2 linked regions of the Homo sapiens genome follow. Changing the gene in region 1 together with any one later gene gives a genetic interaction. Each region holds a gene or a part of one and is shown in the gene's direction. Other genes may lie near its edges. The genes, in order: RAD23B and ALDH2.

What was found.
Region 2: changes in RAD23B (region 1) and ALDH2 are lethal when combined (synthetic lethality), as found in Homo sapiens cells (one large-scale study listed by BioGRID).

Annotation. Positions count from the first base shown.
Region 1 is NC_000009.12:107,289,475-107,293,296, forward strand, and holds part of RAD23B (UV excision repair protein RAD23 homolog B), read left to right. Parts: intron 1-3,822. UniProt on the Homo sapiens protein: Multiubiquitin chain receptor involved in modulation of proteasomal degradation. Binds to polyubiquitin chains.
Region 2 is NC_000012.12:111,769,751-111,773,572, forward strand, and holds part of ALDH2 (aldehyde dehydrogenase, mitochondrial isoform 1 precursor), read left to right. Parts: intron 1-3,822. UniProt on the Homo sapiens protein: Required for clearance of cellular formaldehyde, a cytotoxic and carcinogenic metabolite that induces DNA damage.

The DNA of each region.
Region 1 (3,822 bases):
CACACCTAGCCAAGAAATATTTCTTGTAGGATTTTTAAAGGTTACTTTGATGCTGTGGGGTGGGCAAGAGTGAAAAGCAGAGACATCAGTTAGGGGGCTTGTGCAGTAGTTTTAAGTAATTGCAGCTTGAACCAGGGCAGTAGGAGTGGAGATGTAGAGAAGTAGATGGAATTAGGATATGTTTTGAGAGGTACAGTTGGCTGTACCACTTGCTGTGTCACCTCAGGCAAGTTACTCAGTATGTGCCTTTTGGTCCTCTGCTGTAAAATGAGAATACTAGTATGAAAGTACTAACTTATTGGTATATGGGTTTTGAAATAATATTAACAGTGCTTGGCAATGTGGTACCACTCTCCCTCCATTGTTCTTGCTTAGAAAGCCTCAAATGTGATTAAATTCAACTCAGTGTTTGTACTTGCACCTGAGTGGCCAGAGATGCACCTTGTAGCCACATTGACTTGTCTTGCTTAAATTTATGAACATTAAGGAACTTAAGTTCATGAGCACTAAGGAACATTAAGGCACACTAAGGAACCTTAATTGGGTCCTTAGTATGCAGCACCTGACAGTCTTACAGTTTACTAGTCCAGTCACTCTTCCACTGCCACAGGATGCTTTCATATCATCTAGCCTGCTTATTTTCACTTGATGACCCTAGTCTTTATTTGATTGAGAATTTGGAAATAATCGAGACAGAATGTCTACAAGGTCCTACCGTAGCTACCTACCTGCTAGCCTCTTCTTACTGTAGATAGTTCTGAATTGTGGGCGGTGCTATCTAAGGCAGGTCCTTCCACTTTTCCACTGTACCTCATCCCCTGTCATGTGTGAAGGACATCACTCCATCAGATCTTTTCTCTTCATCACTGATTTTTCCCATTTCTAGGGTATACAAACATTTTTCCCCATCTTAATGATACACTCCCTTGTGTCCACATCCCTCTTTAGCTGCTGCCCTATTTCCCTGCTTCTCAAGAAAATTCAGGAGTATCTCTTAATTCTGTTTACTTTTTTCCACATCTTGCTCTTTTCAGATCCACCATACTGTTCCTAAAAGGGAGTCCTCACAACTTTGTACTTGTGCTTTGTCCTTAAGCACAATACTTTTAAAAAAGTCTTTCTCCTCTTTATTAAAATGAGAGTAATAATAATTGAACTGCTTTCCTAACAGTTGTGAAAATCAGGTGAGATCATGGGCATGGAAATATTTAGTGAATTGTGAAATTAGAAATAAATTTTGCAGTTTTTAAACAAATCCTGCTTTCATCAGTTTTTATTTCGATCATTTCACTATTCTTTCTTTAAAAGGTTTGTATGAATGAGATATTCTCATTTTCTTAGATTGACATAATCAGCAATTTTGAACAGTGTGTAAAATCAATGAACAAGGTCCTGCCGCGATAGATGCCGTATAGGATTCCAGTTAATTTCTGAAAGAAATTTGCTAAATTTAACCCTACTGTGGCACAGTGAATCGTACGAAGGACACTACACCATCTGTTCCCTGTAAGTTTAGATAAATAAATGTTTTTTATAGTGTCACGAAAGCTAATTTTACAACTGAATGAGCTTTATAAAACTTGTAAACATTGTATAAACTTATTTCGAGGAGGTAGACCAGCTACAAATGACTGACAATACATGAACAGATTCTGGAGGCTTAAACAGGTAGATAAAGTTGTTCTCACCAATTATTCCCCACACACTTCTGGTTGAATTAGGTAGGCACCTTGTTTTTGCTAGTGCACTGGCGAGATCCATTCTTTGCCTATATAGAAACTTACAGGTATCTTGGGAATTCTGCTTACTCAGTTTTCAAATTCCTGTGTTTCTTTTGGTCTTGTTGAAATCATACTGTTAGGAATATATTTTATAATAGATTAAATTGGCATGAATTGGTTGGCTTAATTTCTGTGGGACAAATGGGTTTTGGATTTCAAATCATATATTTAAAATAATAGCCTTTTGGATCATAACCCCAGTTTGAGGATTGCCTTTGTTATAGTGCCTGCCTCTTCTCACATAATTAATGTTATGCTATCAGTTATTGTTTCAATTGTAAAAATCTCCTGTACTAAATTATTTTATTCCTTGGGTCCAGTGAGGAGATTTTTCCTATTTGTACTGAAGTCAGCTGACATTTTTAAAATCAAATTTGTATTTGTAGAAATATCAGGAACCTACCTTGGGACAGAAATTCCCCAGGAAATACTCTGGTGCCTGTACCAGTTTCTCAAGTGGAAGGAGAAGAACCGAAGAACCAAAAAAGAAAAAGCATTACCTGTAGTGTAAACATAAGAAATCCTTTAGTACACATTTGGCTTTGGGAATCTCCTTTATTTTGCTAATTGTTGATTGCCAAAATTTAATTGCTGCTATTATTTTTTAATTAGGCCGTGTAGTATTAGAACTGCCTTAGACCTTTTTCTTTTAAATGAAATCTCTTTTTCTCTTTGAAAGTCCAGTTTTCCCTAAATTACTCAAGTAATTCAGGCTCATTATAGTAAATAAAGTATAGTAAAATGAGAATGGCTTTTGCCATCGGTCTAAGGAACCACTGTAGACTCTGTATATCCCTCTAGTCTTTTCAAAAAATACATTTACACATAATACATGAACACAACTACACTATTTGTTTAAAAAAATTAATTAGCAACTAGCTTTTTTTCCTCAAACATAGTTATAAATATTCATTTATATTGCATAATGTTCAAATGAATTTATGTACATTAATTTATTTTACCATTTCTCCTTTGTGGATGTTTAGGGTGGTTTTCAGTTTTTAGTATTGCAAAAAGCAATGTAGTGCACATACTTTGTACCTTTGTCTTTGAAGTAGTTACATGAGCACCTCTAGCATTGATTTCTAGATGCGAAATTATTTGGTCAAAGTGTGGCAGATTGCCTTTAAAAATGCCTGGTCAGGCTGAGCGCCGTGGCTTATGCCTGTAATCCCAGCACTTTGGGAGGCTGAGGTGGGCGGATCACGAGGTCAGGAGTTCGAGACCCTCCTGGCCAATGTGATGAAACCCTGTCTCTACTAAAAATACAAAAAATTAGCTAGGTGTGGTGGCGTGCACCTGTAGTCTCAGCTACTTGGGAGGCTGAGGCAGGAGAATCGCTTGAACTCGTGAGGTGGAGGTTGCAGTGAGCCAAGATCGTGCCACTACACTCCAGCCTGGTGACAGAGCGAGACTCTGTCAAAAAAAAAAAAAAAAAAAAAAGCCTGGTCAGTACTTACACACATTAACAATACTTGTTATTTACAAATACCATCTCCCATATGAGTAGCCAGGATTCAAATTTAGAGACTCTGCCTCTAGAGCCTGTATGTTTAACCTTTTTATTTCATCTGCCTTAGTGTCCCCATTAGAAAAAGAGGATAATAGTATCTACCTGTGTACTAGTTAACCTATTACTGCATAACAAATTACCCCAAAACTTAATTAGAACAGTAAACACTTACTATTTCATAATTTCTGTGAGTCAGAAATTCAGGGATATTTTAGCTGTGTGGTTCTTACTCAAGAGTCTCAGGAAGTTGGATTTAAGGACTTCATTCTATGCATTAAAGGCTTGACTGGCTGGAGGGTTCCCACTGAAAGTGACTTCCTCACATGGCTAACAGCTTGGTGATGGTTATTGACTGGAGGCCTCAGATCCTCCCCATATGTCCTCATGACATTGTGGCTGGCTTCTCCCAGTGTTAGTGATCCAAGAGAGCAAAATAGAAACGATGGCTTTTATATATAAACCAGCCTCAGAAGTCACACTTTTACTTCAGCAGTATCTTACTGTTCTTGTGGACTAGCCATAATTTAG
Region 2 (3,822 bases), on another chromosome or scaffold:
CCCCTGGGCTGTTTGCAGTGTGGCCTTATTGCTGACTCAGCAGGGAAGAGGGATGGTGCATACAGCAGTGGACTCTGCACCTCAGCTGCCTCATCTGTAAAATGGGGTAAAATGGCTGGGTGCAGTGGCTCACACCTGTAATCCCAGCATTTTGCAAGACTGAAGCAGGCGGATCACGAGGTCAGGAGTTCGAGACTAGCCTGGCCAACATAGTGAAACCCTGTCTCTACTGAAAATACAAAAATTAGCTGGGCATGGTGGCGCGCACCTGTAATCCCAGCTACTTGGGAGGCTGAGGCAGGAGCATCACTTGAACCTGGGAGGCAGAGGTTGCAGTGAGCCGAGATCACACTACTGCATTCCAGCCTGGGTGACAGAGCGAGACTCCATCTCAAAAAAAAAAAAAAATGTGGGGGGTAAAATTCCATCTGCATCACCGAATTGCTGTGAGGACCAAATGGGGTGAGGCTTCTGCAGCCACAGGCAGTGCTGGCTTCATGGCCACTGGTGCCTCCATATTGACTGCAGCCTTAAGCAGGAGCTGGGATAACAGTGACGCTGTGGACTTGCAGTGTCTTGGTGATCAAACTCCATTTGATATGGATGCTGTTGTATTTGCAGTTTGTTTCCTGAAGGGGTGAGCTAGATTGTGGTAAAGTAGAATGGGAGTTTGGGGTGAATTAAAACTTGCATCTTTATTCTTACCCTCTCTTTCTGTTTTTGTTTTTGTTTTGAGACAGGGTCTCTCACTGTTGCCCAGGCTGGAGTGTAGTAGTGCTCACTGCAGCCTCAACCTCCCAGGCTCAGTCAACAAGTTATCCTCCTACTTCAGTCTTCCAAGTAGCTGAGACTACAGGCATACCCCACCACACCTGACTAATTTTTGTATTTTTTATTTTATTTTATTTATTTGAGACAGACTCTTGCTCTGTTGCCCAGGGTGGAGTGCAGTGGTGTGATCTTGGCTCACTCTAACCTCCACCTCCTGGGTTCAAGCGATTCTCCTGCTTGAGCCTCCTGAGTAGCTAGGATTACAGGTGCCCACCACCACGCCTGGCTAATTTTTTTGTATTCTTAGTAGAGATGAGGTTTCGCCATGTTGGCCAGGCTGGCTGGTCTTGAACTCCTGGCCTCAGGTGATCCACCTGCCCTGGCCTCCCAAAGTGCTGGGATTAAGGCACTGCAGCCAGCCAATTTTTTATAATTTTTATAGAGATGGGGTTTTGCCATGTTGCCCAGGCTGGGTCTTGAACTTCTAGGCTCAAGCAATCTTCCCTCCTTGGCCTCCCAAAGTGCTGGGATTACAGTGTGAAGCACTGAACTAAAGAGAGAACTGACAGGCAATTAAGGATGGATTTCCCAAGGCTAGGTGTGGTGGCTCACAGCTGTAATCCCAGCACTTTCAGAGGCTAAGGTGGGAAGATTGCTTAACCCCAGGAGTTCGAGACCAGCCTGGGCAACATAGCAAAACTCCATCTCTACAAAAGCTTAAAAAAATTAGCTGGACATGGTGGTGAGCACCTGTAGTCACAGCTACTTGGGCGGCTGAGGCAGGAGGATTGCTTGAGCCAAGGAGTTTGAGGCTTCAGTGAGCTTTGATCTTGCCACTGCACTCCATCCTGGGCAACACTGCAAGTATACATAGGCACCATACAGAAATGTTCATTGCAACTTCTTTTATGTCAGTAAAAGCTTAGGAAATAAGCCAGCTCGAGCTCCATTGGGAAATAGATGAACACCTATGTTACAGTTATAGGAGGAAATAATCCTCTGCATGTAGCAGTTACAAATCATTGGCTCAACCTGTACAAATAATGTATCTCAAAAACAATATGTCAAGGAGGAAAAATGTCCAGCACTCTACACCATATGAAACCATGAAAACTGTACAAAACTTTATGTTGTATGTAGATAGACAGATCTCCATAAAAAATGTGTAAGAATGTGCTGGAAGGAAAATTCTCCTTGGTGTGAGGGTGGTTACTGCCTGAGTGGGCAGGACAGGATAAGGGTAGTGATGAACGAGGACTCTGGCTTCATTTAAATGTTTGATTTCTTTAAAAATTGGCCAGGCACGGTGGCTCACGCCTGTAATCTCCGCACTTTGGGAGGCTGAGGCGGGCAGATTGCTTGAGCACAGGAGTTCGAGACCAGCCTGACCAACATGGTGAAACCCTGACTCTGCTAAAAATACAAAAATTAGCTAGGCCTGGTAGCCCACGCTTGTAATCCCAGCTACTCCGGAGGCTGAGGCATGAGAATCACTTTAACCCGGGAGGCAGAGGTTGCAGTGAGCCGAGATCGCACCACTGTACTCCAGCCTGGGTGACAGAGTGACACTTCGTCTGAAAAAAAACTCCCCAAAAAACAAAAAAAACTTAATACCCCATGAGCAGATATTAAAAGAAAAAAGAAAAAATATAATGGTCCCCTGATGTGCCACCCCTGCAGATAATCACTGTTAACGGTATATCTGAAGCAGAAATTTGCTTTTTCTTGTTTGCCTGGGAGATTCTTACAGAATGAGCCAAAACCTGTGTTTTGGAGTGACTTTGTGCTGACTGAATCTCCCTATTGATTGTACAGGTTGATGACTTCTTTAGGAGTGTCCTTTGTTTTTGTTTTTGTTTTTGAGATGTAGTCTCACTCTGTCGCCCGGGCTGGAGTGCAGTGGCACGATCACGGCTCACTGCAACCTCTGCCTCCCGGGTTCAAGCGATTCTCCTGCCTCAGCCTCCTGAGTAGCTGGGATTACGGGTGCCGCCACCATGCCCAGCTAATTTTGTATTTTTAGTAGAGTTGGGGTTTCACCATGTTGGCCAGGCTAGTCTCAAACTCCTGACCTTGTGATCCACCCGCCTTGGCCTCCCAAAGTGCTGGGATTACAGGCGTGAGCCACTGCACCTGGCCTCTTTTTTTTTTGGTTTTTTTTTTTTTTTTTGAGACAGGGTCTTGCTCTGTTGCCCAGGCTGGAGTGCAATGGCATGATCATAACTCACTGCAACCTCAAACTCTTGGGCTGAAGCGATCCTCCTGCGTCAGCCACTAGAGGCACTGGGATTATAGGCATGGGCCACAACATCCAGCTAGGAGTTTTAAGAGCCTCTATAGAAATAGATTTAGGTGGCCGGGCATGGCAGCTCATGCCCTGGCATAAGAGTGAGGCCTAGTGACAGAGTGAGACTCCGTCTCAAAAAAAAAAAACAAAAAGAAATAGATTTAGGCAGGCTGGGTGTGGTGGCTCATGCCTGTAATCCCAGCACCTTGGGAGGCCGAGGCAGGCGGATCACCTCAGGTGGAGACCAGCCTGACCAATATGATGAAACCCCGTCTCTACTAAAAATACAAAAATTGGCCGGTGTGGTGGCATGTACCTGTAATCCCAGCTACCTGGGAGGCTGAGACAGGAGAAACGCTTGAACCCAGGAGGCGGAGGTTGTGGTGGGGCCCAGTGACACCGCCCGCCTCAGCCTCCCAAAGTGCTGGGATTACAGGCATGAGCCACCGTGGCCGGCCCGTGTTTTTAATCAGAGAACACAAATGGGCATTCAATACTTCCTGCCTGCCCAGAATCTGTGGGACACACTTGAGTTTCAGGTGACAGGGCTATAATAATGTTTGTGCTCCTGAGGTCAAGCTGAGTTGAGAATTTACATGTTGTGGACATGTGTATGTATTCCCTGCTCCAGTAATCATGATTATTCATCACCTATTTTCCATCAGGCCCTCTACTGAGGACTTCTACCTGCATTTCACCTTTCATCCTACCCGCAACTCTATAAGCCTGGTAGTATTGCTGTCCCGTCTTGCGGGTGAGGAAAC